Regions from separate parts of the Homo sapiens genome. Here region 2 is linked to region 1. Evidence: fine-mapped expression QTL. A gene starts in region 1. The other region holds a variant in brackets. All regions are shown on one strand. Distances are from middle to middle.

Region 1 (8,478 bases):
TTAGGTAGATGATGGATATAACACTTTTCTCTGCATATAGTAGACACTCAGTGCATAACTATCGCCTTCCTTTTCCCTCTACTCAGAAACAAGGACATCTGGGACCACAGCCACATACTTACCTCCAGTCGTTTCATATCAACCAACTGAGCTCTAACATTTTTCTGCAGAAGCTGGATATGCTGTACTTTTTCTATGACTTTGCGCTTCAGGACTTCAATTCTGCTTCTCAGATCCTCTGACACTCGGTTGTAGGTATTATCACGGTCTGAAATCGAAAATATGGTTATTGAAGTAGCTGCTGAGTGATTTGTCTGTAATTGCCAGCAAAAAAGAAAGGAAGAAAGGAAGGAAGGAGAAAGAAAGAAAGAAAGAAAGAAAGAAAGAAAGAAAGAAAGAAAGAAAGAAAGAAAGAGAAAAAAGAAAGAAAGAAACTAGCTTGTAAATATGCCTAATTTTATTTTGGTTACAGTTTAATCTGTGAGTTCAAAACCTATGGGGCATTTGACTTTTGGATAATGTTATGCCCTGCAGCCTTCCATGAATGCCAGTTAAGATGTCCTAATAGCAATTAGTAATCCCAAAGAAATATAGAAGAAGAACTTTCTTTGGAATTTTAAAGGTGTAATTTGGAGTTAAAATAGTTGGTTTGATTGCATTTCAATTATTTTATAACATCCTTAATCAAGGGACTTGAACATATTGGATTTTCTTACTGATGAGCTTTTCTTTTTAATCTATAGATTTGAAATGGTTCCTAAGCTGTTTTGGGTCAACAGGATCACTCACTTGCCAGCTAGTGTTGCATCACTGATTTTAAATGTCAAGTGTTTGTGAAGGTGTAAAAAGGCAAAGCAAAACTTGAGAAACTGAGGACTCCCTAGACTCGCTGTCCATGCCCAGAGTGAATGCAATGTTTCCTAACCCTAATGAGTAGACTGTGAGAATGACGTAGCTTGACCCTATATTTTAAATTTAAAAATCTACCTAATCAGCTCAGTGGAGTCTGGGAGTTGAATTCCCAGCTCTGTGTCTTTGAACAAGTTCCTTGACCTCTCAGTTTTCACCTTTACAAAGCAGAAACAAAAATATCAACTCAAAGAGTCTGACCCATCCTACTTTCAGTATATACTGTTGAAAAGAACACATTTAAATTCTTGTTTTTAATCCAAAATTCTGACTTATTTTGTGACCTTAAACAATCTCAGTTAACATCTTTTACTTTGAAAAAATAACGAAAACAAAAGCTCCCTCTTAAAATTTTCAGGGATATTATGAAGGTATGTGTTTCTACACTAAGTACTTTGGGATGAAATTGTCATAGATATAAGCGGATATCATATTTATTTAGGATTTTTGTTGTTTCTGTTATAAAGTCAAAGCAGTAAATATGTAATACTTACTATTGGCTGAGGAAAAATCGCCTCTCAAAATTTCCATTATATTAGTGGTCAACGAATGAGAATCCTTATTGTTCTTCTGATATTCAAATAGTGAATTTTTGAGCTTATTTATTCTGTTTGTAAAATCTTGATTGACTTCATCAATCAACCCTTTCATCCTGCAGCCAGAAGGGCATTTGTAGTTCTGAAAGTGAAGGGAGAAAATTACAGTAAGGATCTATCTCTCAGATTCAGAATAATTTTGCATGTTTCCATGCAGCCCCCATTTCTTCCTACCCTATCTCTTCCAGATAAGTTGGCTTAAAAGTAGGTAAGAGGACTAGTTAGAGGTCGCAGAGAAACTCTGGAATGAGGGTCCACTTAGCCATAAATTAGGTGCCAGGAAATTGAGGCCACAATACTCAGGAGCCTGGTTTTGCCTGAGCATGCAACTGAAATCCTGTCTGTTCACCCACTAATGATCCAGAGTTGGGGAGGTAAATAAACAGTGCTCTTGGGAGTAGGTTCCTTTTCTTTATTTGCTATGTAGGTAACTATTCAATTATTTTCTATTTAAAAAAGTTTCTGGGACCAATCAGGTCAGCCTGTGAGCCCCTCTAGCATCAGAGGGAAGGAATCTCCTGCTTCCCCCGCTGACTGCTTACCCAGTCTTCATCAGAGCAGAAGGGCCAGTCTGAATCTTTGCAGGCAGATTGATGTCTTTCCACAACCCTTGGGCCACGCACGCCTCCTCCTTCAGCTAGAAAGTCACCTTCACCACTATCTGCAGTCTTTAAAGATTCATTCACATACACAAAAGAGAGCAACAGCAATGTTAGCCAGAAGAGGAGACAGTGGCATGCCTACAAGTCCCCAGGAAGAGATGGCACTCTCACAGAGATTAAGGAGAGCAGACACAGGGCTTCGGCAAGCTTCAGGTTTCTTATCTTCAAATGGAAATCCTAGGACCCATTTTATGGAGTTGTTATGAGAATTAAAGGAGACAAGGTGTACAAATTTCTTAACTGTGTGTGACACTTAAATAAGCATTTGATAAATATTAGGAGTTTTAAAGAATCCATCCTAAAAGGAAAATTATTTGAATCTATAAAATCAGTTAAATTTTACCTTTTCATTTTTACTAATGACTGCAGACAGAAAGTTGAAAACTACTGTAGAGCTCTTTCTCCTGTAATTGCTGCTTCAGTAGAAAAACCTAGACTATCTTAACTGAATGTTCCTCTCTCCTTCAAGTTTCTATGTAACCTTTAGAGATGGATTCATAATTTAAAAGAATACCATTACTGCGGAAAAGCGTATTGCCTTACTAACTAATCTCTTCTGATACTGCAAAGATATTTCCAAAGATAATTCGTTTGCTTTTTCTTCTGTCTTGACAAACACAACAATAACCTTTCAGCAAAACTGTACTAACACTAAAAGTTCTGCTTATTATGGACAAGTAGCAAGAAATTAATAACTAAAGAAAACAAATCTTACCATAAAATGTTTTATTCCATTAACTAGCATTATAATGCACCAAGGCTTTATAGGTACAAGGATGGCAAATAATTCTTGCCCTTTTTAAAACAAAACAAAACAAAATGTGGTAAGACTGAATGACAGATGCTAAAGTTTCCCTTGTGAGTTTGTACACTCTCATCCATCTAAGATCTTCCTCTTGGTGTCATATTACCCTGTATTCTTGAGGTGTCAAGCCCACCCAGGAAATTTCCTCCCAGGCCTGGGGTCATAAAGCTAAGAGTGTGTCAGGACATAGAGCAGGTAGACTCTGACCTCCAGGCTCTTTGTGGAATAAACACCAGAGAGAAAGCAAGAAGAAAAAATGAAAAGGGCCATACCCATGCTGTGCCCACCACACTTAGGACCAGGCAGACGATCCTCATGGAAAACATCTTTTCTAAGGGTGGGGCTGGCTCCTGAGGAGCACTCCAGCTGAAAGAAAGGATTGCTGCCACTCCTAGTTCCCATCCTATTTAAATCTGCAAGAGGTTTGGTTAATCATTGGCTTTGTCCTGTGTAGACAGTCAACCCTCCCTCTACGTCCTTTGTTCCTCCTATGCTGTTGGTATCCCAGAAATTCTTGCTCAATTCCCCTCAGCTTGTTTGCTTCCGATAAGCTGTTGCAAAGGTAGCATTTGATTCTCCAGTCAACAATTAGGAGATCTCACATTCCAGGAACAGGGTGGCTTTGAGAATGAAAAGAGGAGCATAGGAGGGTATATCCATATTTCTAAACGTGAAAGAATATAGAAGGTGCTTAGGTAAGCTAGCTGTAGCCCCCAGTAGTAGTGATTTAGCAAACAATATTTCACTTTATGCAGAAATTAGGGTTGGGTGATCTGGCTTATAAAAAAAATAACTTTGGGGATAAGCTGGCCCTGAAGGCTTTCTATAAGTTTATTTAGAACATATTACTTTTCTCTATTTAAAATATTAAGATGACAGCAGCCCCAGGAACAAAACATCTTGGGTTCATAATCCAAGCTGCACCACTTCCCTGCTCTATGTTCTTGGACAAGTTACTTTACCTCTTTATACTTCAGTTTCCTCATTTATAAAATAAGGATGCTGATAAGCTACCCCATGCTTTTATGAAGAATAAATGAGTTAATTCTTGTAAATCTCTCAGAACAGTGACTGTCACATAGGAAATACTCAGTGAATTATGGGAGATCATAAAGTGCCATGAAAAATACCATTTATTTCCTGTTTCTGTGCTAGCAATCTCATTTCTGAGTGTATTTCCAAAGGAAATGAAATCAGGATCTTGAAGAGACACCTGCATTCCCATGTTCATTGTAGCTATATTGACAATAGCCGAGATATGAAAACAACCTGTTTCCACTGATGGATGAGTAGATAAAGAAAATGTGTATATATATATATACACAATGGAGTATTACTCAGCCTTGAAAAAGAAGGAAATTCTGTCATTTGCAGTAACATTGATGAACCTAGAGGGCATTATCCTAAGTGAAATGAGCAGATATAGACAGACAAATACTGCTTAGCTGGTCGTGGTGACAGGCACCTGTAATCCCAGCTACTCAGGAGGCTGAGGCAGGGAGAATCACTTGAACGCGGGAGGTGGAGGAGGTTGCAGTGAGCCGAGATTGCATCATTGCACTCCAGCCTGGGCCACAGAGTGAGACTCCTTCTCAAAAAAAAAAAAAAAAACGGAAAAGAAAGACAAATACTGTATGATCTTTCTTACATGTGAAATCTAAAATAGTCAAACTCACGGAAGAAAAGTGTAGAATGGTGGTGGCCAGGGCCTGAGGCATAGGAGAAATGGGGGAGATGTTGGTTAGAGGGCACAAAGTTTGAGCTATGCAATATAAATAAGTTCTGGAGTCCAATGTGCAGCATGGTGACTATAGTTGATAATATTATGCTGTATATTTGAAATTTGCTAAAAAGGTAGATCTTAAGTCTTCTCACCACACAAAAAGATAACTATATGAGGTGTTTTAAGTGCTAATTAGATTAATAGTGGTAATCATTTCACAATGTTTATGTGTATCAAAACACCAATCAGAGAGAAGTTCCCCTTTAAAGGAAAATAAAAAAACAAACATCCAGCTGTACAACCTAAATTATGCAATTTTTATTTGTCAATTATACTTCAATAAAGGTAAAAAACATCTTCAGCTTACATTTACCAGATGTATTAGGTTGGCGGAAATAGCAAATAAAAATAAGAGTGTCCCAGTTAAATTTGAATTTCAGATAAACAACAAATCTATTTGAGTATAAGTATGTCTCATGTGATATTTGAGACACACTTAAAATTTTTTTGTTGTTCATCTGAAATTCAAACTTTACTGGACATCCTGTACTTTATCTGGCAATCCTACCTTGCCTCAAATTCTGCTTCCTACATGAAGCCAATCCTAATAGAGTAATAGCTAATGTGTATTGAATGTTTACTAAGTCTTGGGTTCTTTGCTAGACATTTTGCAGGGTACCTGATTCAATGTCCAATTAAAAGGAATCTCATGTTCTTTCATACTTCCTTAGACTGTGCACCACTAATGGCATTTATCATTATAGGAGTACCGTCTGTCTCCTCCACTAGATCATAAACTTGAGAATTGAAATGTTTTATTGGTCTTTATATTCTCCCCAAAAGGTGTGGGCCCTCATTGAGCAAGAAAGCATAAGTGGGTTCCAGAGATGCGAAGTTGCCTGGCTGCCTCCCCCAGCACTGCAGACGTGTGAAGCTTTCTATAAATGGATGGAAGCCCTGGTGCAAGGCAGTGCACTGTCTGCTCTATGGAAGACTCCTTGTCTGATCAAGCTCACCCCTGAAGCAGCTTGCTATGATTTTAGAGTTAACTGCAGAGCAAAGAGGAAGCCCCAGAGCCCCATCCAGGTTCCAGAGGGCAATGATTCCATGAAAAGCTGGGTTACACTCACTCACAATGACTGCACTGGCAAAATGTCAGGATTAGATAGGAAGGTGAGGCTTGATCTCTGCACACATTTTCCTATGCCCACAAGAAGTGCCCCTTTGGGAGGTGAACATGGTATATAGCAAAGAAGTTCCCGAGAGTAACCTGGTAGGCCTTAGGTGAGTCGGCTGAACATAATCTGATTGAAGGTAAATTAACAGAAAACAATTTGGTTGAATGCCACCACCCTAGTGCCATGTCAGGGTGTTTCCAAGGATGCCACCTGAGGGCTTTATCCTTGCCTCTCAGAATCAGCACATCTCACACCCTTTCTTACTCCTGGCCTCTGCTCACATGGCATCTACTCAGAGAGGCCTTCTCTGGCCACCTGATCTAAAGAGCTGCCACTCTCGCATGTCATTCCATTGACTCTGCTTGGTTTTTCCACGCAGTACCTTATAACTCCTGGACAATGTGCATTTGGGAAGGTATTTGTTTATTCTGTGTCTTGCCTACACAAAGCTTCCTGAGGCCAAGGCACAAGGACTGGCACAAATGTCAGGCATAGAGCAATTGCTGCTCAGTATCTGCTGGAGAAATGGAAGGCTGTCACCATATGGTGGTGACAATGCATGGTGGGCTTTCCAGCATGTGAGACCTGGATTCCAGCTAAGTGACATGGGCAAACTATTTAAATTCTCTGAGCTATAAATGGGATGATGATATTTGTCTTACAGGATTGCTGTGAAGATTATGTAAAATGGTGTATGTAAAATGTTGGCCATACACAGCAGGAGCTCTAGAAACAGTAGCTTTTATTGTTCCTAGAATATCCCAATGCTCCATGATAAAATGTTCCCTTGTTTTGACTGTAGTACCAGGAGTCCCTAATGAGGCACTTCTGTAGCTCACTGTTTGGCCCCACACTGCAGGCTGCTCACTAGGCTGGGCTCTCTGCCCCATGAACAGGCTGTATTGTAAGCTTTGGAGGAGTAGGTTTTGTTTAGCTGGAAAACCATGCAAATTAATAGGCATGATACGAGTATCATTTTTTAAAAAGCATGTGACAATAAGCGTATCTTTAAATGTGCAAAACTGGAAAAAAGATGGAAGAAATTTTCAGTTGCTTAAATTATAATCTGCCGTGCATTGGCTTTTTCTTTTTGAGATGGAGTCTCACTCTGCCACCCAGGCTGGAGTGCAACAGCGCCATCTCAGCTTACTGCAACCTCTGCCTCCCGGGTTCAAGCGATTTTCCTGCCTCAGCCTCCTGAGTAGCTGGGATTACAGGTGCCCACCACCATGACTGGCTAATTTTTTGTATTTTTAGTAGAGATAGGGTTTCCCCATGTTGACCAGGCTGGTCTTGAACTCCTGACCTGAGGTGCTCCACCCACTTCAGCCTCCCAAAGTGCTGGGATTACAGGCATGAGCTACTGCACCAGGTTTGTCTTTTTCCTATAGATAACTACATCCTATTTACCTTAGCTCTAATGAGAAGGATGTTTGATATATCTATCCTTTTGAAGTTAATGTAATATAAACATTTAAATATAAATGTTAATATAAACATTTGAATGCAGGAATTTACACATTTGTTATGCCATAACTTTTGGCATGACTAGAATAGTTTTTACTAGTTTTAATAGCTTTATTTGTGTGGTATATAATGTATACAGAAAGAGTAGAAATTCTATAGCTATATGTTTCAGTTTTAAACTATATCTACTCATCACAGCTTCCACAGGAAAAGTAAAATATATAACCAGTTATCTATATATTTGCAATTGTATAAATACAACTTAAAAATACAAAACAAAACAACAGTGTTATTTTGAATGGAATATTTGTCTTACCCTGGGCTGACACCAGAAATTAAATGCATTGATTTCTGAGAGCAGCTCACTCATTCACTCATTTGTCTAAATTTAGCAATCATTTATCCTATGTATATTATTTCTCTAGTCCTGCATACTATGTGCTTAAGATAAAAAGGCAAACAATGTATAGTCTTTTACCTTCAAGTTGCTTACAATTGGCAAGCAAGTCAAATACGTTATGCAGCTGAGAATTAAGTTAAACTATGTAAACTTGACATTTTTGTAGGTCAAAACAATAATATCTACAGTTTTATACGGTTTAATCTAATATAAAACAATGGAAAAAATCTGTAAGCTATATGCTGAGTTCTGTTAGAACACACAGCAGAGAGTGTTATATCACTTACGTATTGCTTTTTGTTTTGTTTGTGTGAGATATTTCTTAAAAAGTCAGATTTAATTCAGGTCTCAAAATACAAGATGTTTCTGAAAAATTCTTATGTCATCTATCATAAAAATCTACATGAATCTGTACATTCTTTCCAAAGACATTTGGTATCCTAATAACAAGAAGATAATAGTACTTTGACAGGAACTATTTTGTTAAAACAATATTAAGTGCATTCTTGGAAAGTACTAAAATTATCTTCTAAATTTTGAAATGACTAAATTATAAAAATTTACAAGATTTTGGCATTTATAAATACAGTCTGATCTGTAATGAATTCACTGGACAACATTGGCAAAGCTATTTAACTTTCTGTAGTTTTTTTATTTTTCTTTTTTTTTTTTTTTTTTTTTTTTAGAGACAGGGTCTTGCTCTGTTGCCCAAGCTGGAGTGTAGTGGCACAATCATGG
Region 2 (8,516 bases), 64 kb before region 1:
GCACATACAAATATGCTCAGCACTACTAAACACCAGGGAAATGCAAATTAAAACCATGAGATACCATCTCATACCGACTAGGATGGCTACTATCAAGGGGAAAACAACAACAACAACCAAAAGCAAACAGGAGGTGCAGCACGTGGGAGTTGCTACCGGAGCAGAATCCAGGTTGGAGTTGGAACCCTGGAGATGCCGAAGGAAACCCGTCTTCCCTACCGCCCCCTAACGCACCGGCCTGCTTGGAACGCAGTTGGAGGCTGCGCGGTACCAGTCCCATGGGGGCTTCTGCTCCGGGTCCTCCAGTCTCAGTGGTCGCTGCTGAGCCGGCTCCCTCTGACTTTTTTTTTTAGACGGAGTCTCGCTCTGTCGTCCATGCTGCAGTGCAGTGGCGCGATCTCGGCTCACTGCAAGCTCCGCCTCCGGGGTTCACGCCATTCTCCTGCCTCAGCCTCCCGAGTAGCTGGGACTACAGGCGCCTGCCACCACCTGGCTAATTTTTTGTGTGTGTTTTTAATAGAGACGGGGTTTCACCGTGTTAGCCAGGATGGTGTCGACCTCCTGACCTTGTGATCCGCCCGTCTCGGCCTCCCAAAGTGCTGGGATTATAGGCGTGAGCCACCGCGCCCGGTCCCCTCTGCCTTTTTAAGGACCCCTGTGCCACCCCCAAAGAAGGCTTCTGCTCTGCTGGAGCCCAGATGGAGGCTGGAGTGGCTGACCTCACTTGTGGGGAGGAGAGAGGTATCACAGCGGCTTCTGATTCAAGTGCTGGTGAATTGTGGGAGGTGGATGAGAACGAGCCACTTACCGTCAGCAAGTTCTGCAAGTATGAGCATGGAGACACTGTGTCTACCCTCAGTGTTCTCGGCTGTCAGCGGCAGCAAAGACTTCAGCATCAAGGATTGGGACCTTGCTCTGCAGGTGGCACTGAATTCATACCGATCTCATGCTGGGCAGGTCACCTGTGCTGCTGCCTCTCCCCGCAAGGACTCTGTGTTTCTTTCCTGCAGTGAGAACAGTAGAATTTTATTCTGGGATACTCTCTGACCAAGCCGACGTCACAGGTGGGCTGCAGTGCCTCTGGCTGCCTTCCCACCTCACTGGCTTGGCATCCTCAGCAAAGTGAAGTCTTCATCTTTGTGATGGGAATGGGACAGTCTCCCTTGTGGACACCAAGAGAGGGAGAGGTGCCCTTGGCTCAGCTGTACAAGACCAATGTGTCATTGGGCTGGTGTTTTCCTCACACCGTGTTCCCTTCCCGGCCTCTTACAGCGAAGATGGCTCACTGGCTGTGCTGGACTCCAGCCTTTCTGAGGTGTTTAGAAGCCGAGGCCACTGTGACCTTGCGAGAGATGCTGCTTGATCCCCCCTCAATCACTTTCTGCTTACCACAATGGGCTGGGACCATCAGGTCGTCTGCCACAAGTGCCCACAGAACCTCTCCCAGCCCCTGGACCTGAAAGCGTTGCTGAGTAGATTGGACTTAAGACAAACAGCAAGTCCCCCATGAGAGTCCACTTCTTTGCCCCTGTTCCCTCAGCTTGTGAGATAACACAGGAGCCTTCTGTAGTATGTTGAAACATTAGATCTGTGCCATTAATTGGCATCGTCTCGCAGCCTGAAGGAGGCTGGATGCTGGGATCCTGTAGTCACAGGAAAGAAAAGCTTTCTTAAAAATGGGCATGCAGGTTCGTCTTGAGTGTGTGTGTGTAGGTTTTGGTAGGGAGGTGGGACGGTGGGGGAGGGATTTAAAAAAAATCTATCCCACATCTCCCCTGAACACCATCTCTCCCTCACTCCCCAAAAAAGTTGACAAAAGGGTTTTATTCTTCCCATGTAGCTGTCTGAGGAATTGACCATATCTGGGTGGGGTATGGAATGTGGGCATCCCTAGGTTCCTGGAAGCAGCTCTTATGCTACTCATAGAGATGGGACTGATTTTATTTTTTATAGCGCTTAATTCACCGTTATGGGAAATGCTTCCAATCACAAAAATTCAGCCCAGCTCGTTTTGAGGAAGAGGCAGGACATGTTATAGTTTTATACAACTCATTTCCATTAAACTGAATCAGAAGTCCTTTTTCTGGATGAATTAAAAATGTGGCCTGTGCCTGTGTAATGTCCACTCCTTTCTGCCAACTCCCTTCCCTCTGCTCCCTGCTGGTGTTGTGTATATGAAAGAGGAGTGTTTTTCTGTCATAGATGCCCTAGAGGAAATTTTGTGGATGTTGGAGAGCTTAAAGGCATTTCAATTGTTAGAAAACTGACACAGACTGTTACAGAGGAATCTTTGCCACTTTTCCCACCCAAAACCAGCCTGGGGCCTGACCTCTTCTGCTCTCAGCCCCTTTCTCTGCATATAGAAAGTCTAAATGCAGTATGTGTAGACTTTTAAAGTTTTAAAATTCAGCCTCAGGAAGAAAATCAGAAATACTGGCTGGTGAAATAAACAGTTTAGGCATCTTGTAAGCCTGCCTTTTTTGAAAAACAACAAAACAAAGTAAGTGTTGGTGAGGATGTGGAAAAATTGGAACCCTTGTGCACTGTTGATGGGAATCAAAAATGGTGCAGTCATTATGGAAAACAATATGACAATTCCTCAAAAAATGAAAAATACAATTACCATGTGATCCGGCAATTCAATTTCTGGATACACATCCAAAAAAATGAAAGTAAGATCTCAAAGAGATATTTGTATACCCATGTTTAGAGCAGCATTATTCACAACGGTCAAAAGGTGGCAGCTCCCCGAGTGTCCATTGACACATGAGTGGATGAATAAAAAGGTGGTATATACATAAAATGGAATATTATTCAGCCTTAAAAGGAAAGGAAATTCTGACATGGGCTACAACATGGATGAACCTTGAGGACACCATGCTGAGTGAAATAGGCTAGCTGTAAAAAGATAAATGCAATTCCACTCATATGAGGAACCTAGAGTAATCAAATTCATAAAGACAGAAAGTAAACAGGTGGTTTCCTGGAGCTGCGAGGAAAGGGGAACGGGGGTTTATTGTTTAATTGGTGCAGAGTTTCAGTTTTGCAGATGAAAAGCATTCTCAGGATTGATTGCACAACAATGCAAATGTACACAGCACTACTGATGTGTATAATTAAAAATGGTTATGATAAATTCTATGTGTATTTCACCACAATTTAAAAAAAAATACATGAAAATTCTTTGGAAAGTATAAGATATTACAGACAAGAGGCCTCAATTATTGAAAAAAAAGATGAAACACTGTCCTGAATTTCCCAAGGGGAACAAAATCTTGAGCATGTCACCTTTGAAAGCATCATCCTGATCCATGTGTACTAAACCAAGTCTAGTGTGATATAAAGTTCCATAGGCTGCATGTGGCATTATGTGCTACCCTTCAAAATTGATTTCAATCCAAGAAAGAGAACAAATCTCGATTCCCAAGTCTTTCCACAACTTGCTTGCTTTTCAAACATAAATCATACATATTAAATCTAACCATTGTCTATAAAAAGCCAACCACACATTTAAAATGTGTTACTGGTAATAGAGCAGCTTGAGGAGGAAGAGGATGAGGGAACTGAAGGCAAGGGGAGGGAGGTCTGTGGAGAGGGTGGGGTGGAACCTGCCAGGCTCTGGGAAGATCAAGGACATTGACAAAAAAGAACAGATTTATCATCACAGAAAAGATGAGGGTAAAAAAACAACAAACAAACAAAACAGGTTACAGGACAGGACATAAGGGCAGACCAACCGTTTAAGGAAAATAAGTCTCATTAGAGGGTTAGAAGCATTAAAAAACTTTTTTCACTTTGTCCTCTGAGGAGAATATTTCTGAAATTTCTGCTTATGGTTATATAAAATCGGGCTGAGGATTTTTTAAAACGTAAAGTTGGTAGCAGACTTTGGATATTTTCATCTATATTTGTTTTTCTGCCTTTAATAAAATAGTGTGTATGTTTCATTTCAGAAGCTATCAAAGACCACATTTTGATTGGTCCACACAATCAAACCAGAAGAATGTTCCAGTTTATTGAATTTGTCTCCTTATTTAAGAAAAAGAAAATTAAGCCAGGAGAAGTTAGCGCTCCATCCACCAGCTGGGTCTTTGATGAAGGGAAGTGAAATGAGGATTCTGCACAGGTGGGCGGTAGCTGGTGGAGTGAGCGCCCTGCAGGTGCAAGTCATGACAACAAATGGGGAGGGATGCTGTGAAGACATTGCCCCATTGTGTTAGGAGAATTCCCAGACACCCCATTCCACTCCTCCAGCTCTCTCCAGGATGGAAG[A/G]ATGGGGAACTATGAGGCGTATGCACCATCCAGGAAGAATCCTAAGTCACATTTACCCTGAAAAGCATGCTTCTGTCCATGAATGTCTTCCACCCTGTGGCTGGGGCTTGGGGGCGGGTAGGGAACAGTGTGGCTGGTGATATTTATGCTTTTCTTCATTTACCAAATATCTTGTAAATGGAACTCTTTCTTTTTTATAAGTCAGTGTTAATGAGTGTAGACCTCAGAGATTTAAAATGAACTATCTGCAAATCTGTGACATTACACTAGAATAAATGTTTTATTACCCCCTCAAATCCAAGTCTCTCTTAAAAGATGTTGAACAGAAAGTACTTAAAGGAATATCTTACATTTTTCATCCATAGTTCAAGTTAAATGATAGGGTAATACTAACACATTAGCTGTCCTTTATACATATTAATCAATAATGCAGTTTTATTATCAATAATTGATTTAAGTCTCAGTAGTGGACAATTTTAAAACAGTCTAAATGTGAAAGTTCAGCATTCTAATCGTTCACAGACAAGCAAGTTAGTGTGAATATATGACACTATGTAAATGACAATATATACATCCAAGTTTAAGTTTACAGTCCAATATAAGGTTACAATTATGTCAAGTCTTAGAAGAATTTTTTTCATAGATACGGACTTCTAACCTATGTATATCACTCTTCTGTTACTATACTTGATAAAATACATTTTGCTAGCTAGAATAGACTTATACTTAGAAAGTTCCATTTACAGTTACACAATTTAATAAAGTTTGATTAAATGAACTGGCAAAATCTGTAATGTTACAAAGTAATAAAATGTAAAACTAAAACTATGGCACATCTGAAAATCAAGAATGACTTGTTTGGCCCACATTACAATTCCTGTATACTAGAATAATAATATATGTTATGTCATAATTTTTCATAAATGATTTTTCAAAATTCAGCAATAATTTTAAATAAATGTGTGCATATATATACGTTTTGCATATAGTTACACAGGTTTCCCAACTGAAATAACTAAGAGAAATAAAAACAGAGAAAAACCTGCCTCTGTGCTGGAAGGAGGGAAGGGTGACCTGTCAATAAGTGTTTGTTGAATGAGTGAATGAATCATGCAAAATTCTAATATCTTATTAAAATAGGAGATAACCTGCCATAGCTAGGACCCAGAAATAAAGAAAACAGAGTTACTTTCATTGTATCTGGGGATCATCCCTTAGCTATTTCTCTCAGTATTTTGAACCTATGTTAATAATGGATATCAAATTTTTCAAACACCAGCAGAGGACAAGGAAGAGCTAACATTCTGACCCCAGTGAAAGTGGACTCTGGTACTTTCATTTAGTCACAGGCTCGCTCAGGGAGTCTTGTTTCTTATTCCTCACTAATAGTCCCAGTCATACAAGCACTTGAGATTATTTTGGCTCCATCCTACTTCCCTGTAGCTACTATGGCCTCCCACTCTCTCATGGACATTCATCGTATTTTGCTCTTGCAACATTCCCTCTCTTGGCCACACTCCAATGCAAATGATTTACTGTAATATGTCTCCACCTTCACACCTTGTGAGAATGAAATGAAAAATCCTACAATTAATTCCTAAGGAAAACAGTACCTTCTAATGCCACCAAAGGTATTGGAAGCAATTATTATTAATTAATAATATAATTATTATTAATTGCAATTGTCGTTGCAAACAGCTTCCAAGAGGGTGGTAGACAGCCAAGACTTTTTATTCAAATAGCTGTTTTCATTCATAAAGCAATCTACTAAATGATAATGTCATGCTTTTTGGCAACATCCGTATTTATGGGTTCTCCTTTTAAGAATTTTCTCTTACATTTGGCATGCTCAGTACAGGACAATACTTCTTAGGAAGTTTGATGGATATTTTTCTTTTGTACTTTTTTAATCAACAGAAACTACACTGATTTTGATTTGCTTAAACAAAAATTTTTTTTCATATTAACAGTCATTTTACCATAGTGTTAGAAGACACCATGGTGGAGGTACTTGCAGTGAGATAACATCCTGCATATTAATCCTTGTGTTTTTCTCTCCTCCACTTCCTGACTCTTCCCTTCATCAGCTGGAGGCAATCACGTTGCCTGGGAGAGAATTAAGATTGTTAAAGCAGGAATTTAAGGAGAAAGGAACTATTTTAATATTATTTTTGAAGTAGAAACTAGGGTTTTAAGATTCAAAAAGAGAAGCTCCAAGGAGACCAGAGCAGAGAGTTTATAACCTCTTCAAAAAGAAAGAGTCAGCCAAGAGTCAGCTCCACCCCTTGGAAACATCAAGAAGCCCAGCCAACACCTACAGACCATCCCTTGCCATTCCTGTGAGCTCATCATCATGCCCCTGGCAGAAAAGCTACAAGTTTCTTCTTGTGACTTTCCTATGAATGCCTTCCTCGCGTTGTTGCCTATACATGGACCGTTGCTCATTCAACAAAAGCCAACTTCTCACCATTCCTTCGCCTTCTCTCCTGCCCTGAGACTTTGATGAGCTCCCATCTGAATTGCCATGGATATGTACCCACTTCTGGAGGCACTCAAAAGCAAGTCCCCTGGATCTGTTAAAAAACAATGTGGCTGCCTATAAAATATAAAAGTCAAAACAACAGTAGCTTAAGGAAGATAGAAGTTTATTTCTCTATGATGTAATTGATATCTAAAGATGAGCAGTCTAGACTTGGAATAGCAGCACTGTATTCATAATGACCTCAGGCTGCTTCTGTATCCCTGCTACATTATCCTAATGCTGGCTTCCATTTTCAGGATCACCTCTTGTCCTAAGATGGTGGGACAAGCTGTCACATTTATATGCTCCAGCTATCACATTTGCTTTCCTGACAGGAGAAAGGGTGAATGCCCACATCTCCCAGCTGAGTCAACAACTTTAAACAAACTTTCTGAAAGTCCCACACAACATTTCTGATTAAATCTCACTGGCTAGGACTTGCCTTCATAGCCACACATAACTGAATAAAAGTCTGAGAAATGTAGCATTTTATGTGGATGCATCCCCTACACCTTCCCCACTGACCCCTGCCAAAAAATAAAAATAAAATAAAATAAAGTGAAAGAGGAGAATGCTTATTGGAAATTAACTCACCCTACCATATGCCCCTTTCCTAAAAAAAAAAAAAAAAAAAAAAAAACAAAAACAGAGCTGGGTCTTTGAAGAGAGTTGATGTGGAATTAATTCACAGGTACATATCTGGGGGAGGACTGGGTAGTGGGGAAAAATAATCCTTGTTTCATGAGAAATATATAGATAAATAACCAAGTAATTAAGGTTCCATTAAGATTTTTAAATGGCAATTAACAAAGCCAAATATTTCAAGTGTGTTATATATAATACAATTATCTATGTTACATATAAAGATGAAGATGATTATATAAAATATAAATTATATTAAAAATAAACATACAGTAAATTATGCATAATATATAGATATGCCATCCAAGGCATTTATGTTATTTTCTCCTTGAATGATCAACATGACATTCACCAGAAACTGGATATGTCTAGAGACATCTTGATTTGCACCTAAAACATGAAGAGCCGCTTTACCAAAGGCCTTGGGAGAGACAGGTGTCCTAGAGTCTAGAACTAATTCAGCAGCTCAGGATAGAAAGGAGAGCAAAGAACCTGTGACACCATAAAAAACTTCAGCAGCAGTAACCAACCATGATGGCAATTAACATAACCAGCAAAATAATAGCTAATATTCGTAGAGTGTTTACTATTTGGTAGGCCCTGCAATGACTTTACTCTTTAATAGGCACAACAACTCGATGAGACTAGAACTATTATCACTCGTTTTCACCAGTGAGAAAACTGAGGAACAGAAAAATGCAGTCACTGAAGTCACTTGTAGACAAGCGCATTGCACAATTAATCAGCGTCAGAGCCAAGAATAAAACCAGGGTTTTATTCTGCTCTGAACTATACCTTCTCCTCTTCCAGAAGTGCAGACATCTGATCAGAAGAAAAGATCACATGATATCACAGAATCATCAGGATGGTGCTGAAGATGAACAAACTGAAATGTCTGAAAGTTTTTAAGAAATTCATAGGCTGTCTTTTAAGTATGATGTTAGAGACGCCAACCAAATATTGCTCTTCTCAGGGGTGGGTCATTTCAATTTCATTTTCAGAAATTTCCAGTTGATACTTATCACCACAAATGAAAGCTATAAAGAAAGACTACTTGAAATGCATGTCAGTCCTTTTCTTT

Alleles and levels. Alleles are on the strand shown, and positions count from the first base shown. SD is a standard deviation of normalised expression in the study named.
In carriers of allele A in region 2, the expression in lung of the gene that starts at base 3,353 in region 1 tends to be lower than with G alone (moderate effect, 0.65 SD a copy in GTEx).

The links.
Region 2: its variant is fine-mapped to the expression of FGA in lung (GTEx, PIP above 0.99).

The regions. Positions count from the first base shown.
Region 1 is chr4:154,587,390-154,595,867 of GRCh38, forward strand. FGA (fibrinogen alpha chain) reads right to left here and starts at 3,353. Exons shown (of 5, transcript NM_021871.4): 1 at 3,245-3,353; 2 at 2,048-2,173; 3 at 1,404-1,587; 4 at 123-268. The coding sequence starts at 3,298.
Region 2 is chr4:154,523,334-154,531,849 of GRCh38, forward strand. It overlaps the pseudogene WDR77P1. Among named protein-coding and RNA genes, the nearest start is that of PLRG1, 23 kb to the right of the region's middle. The variant A/G (reference allele first, on the strand shown) is at 4,273.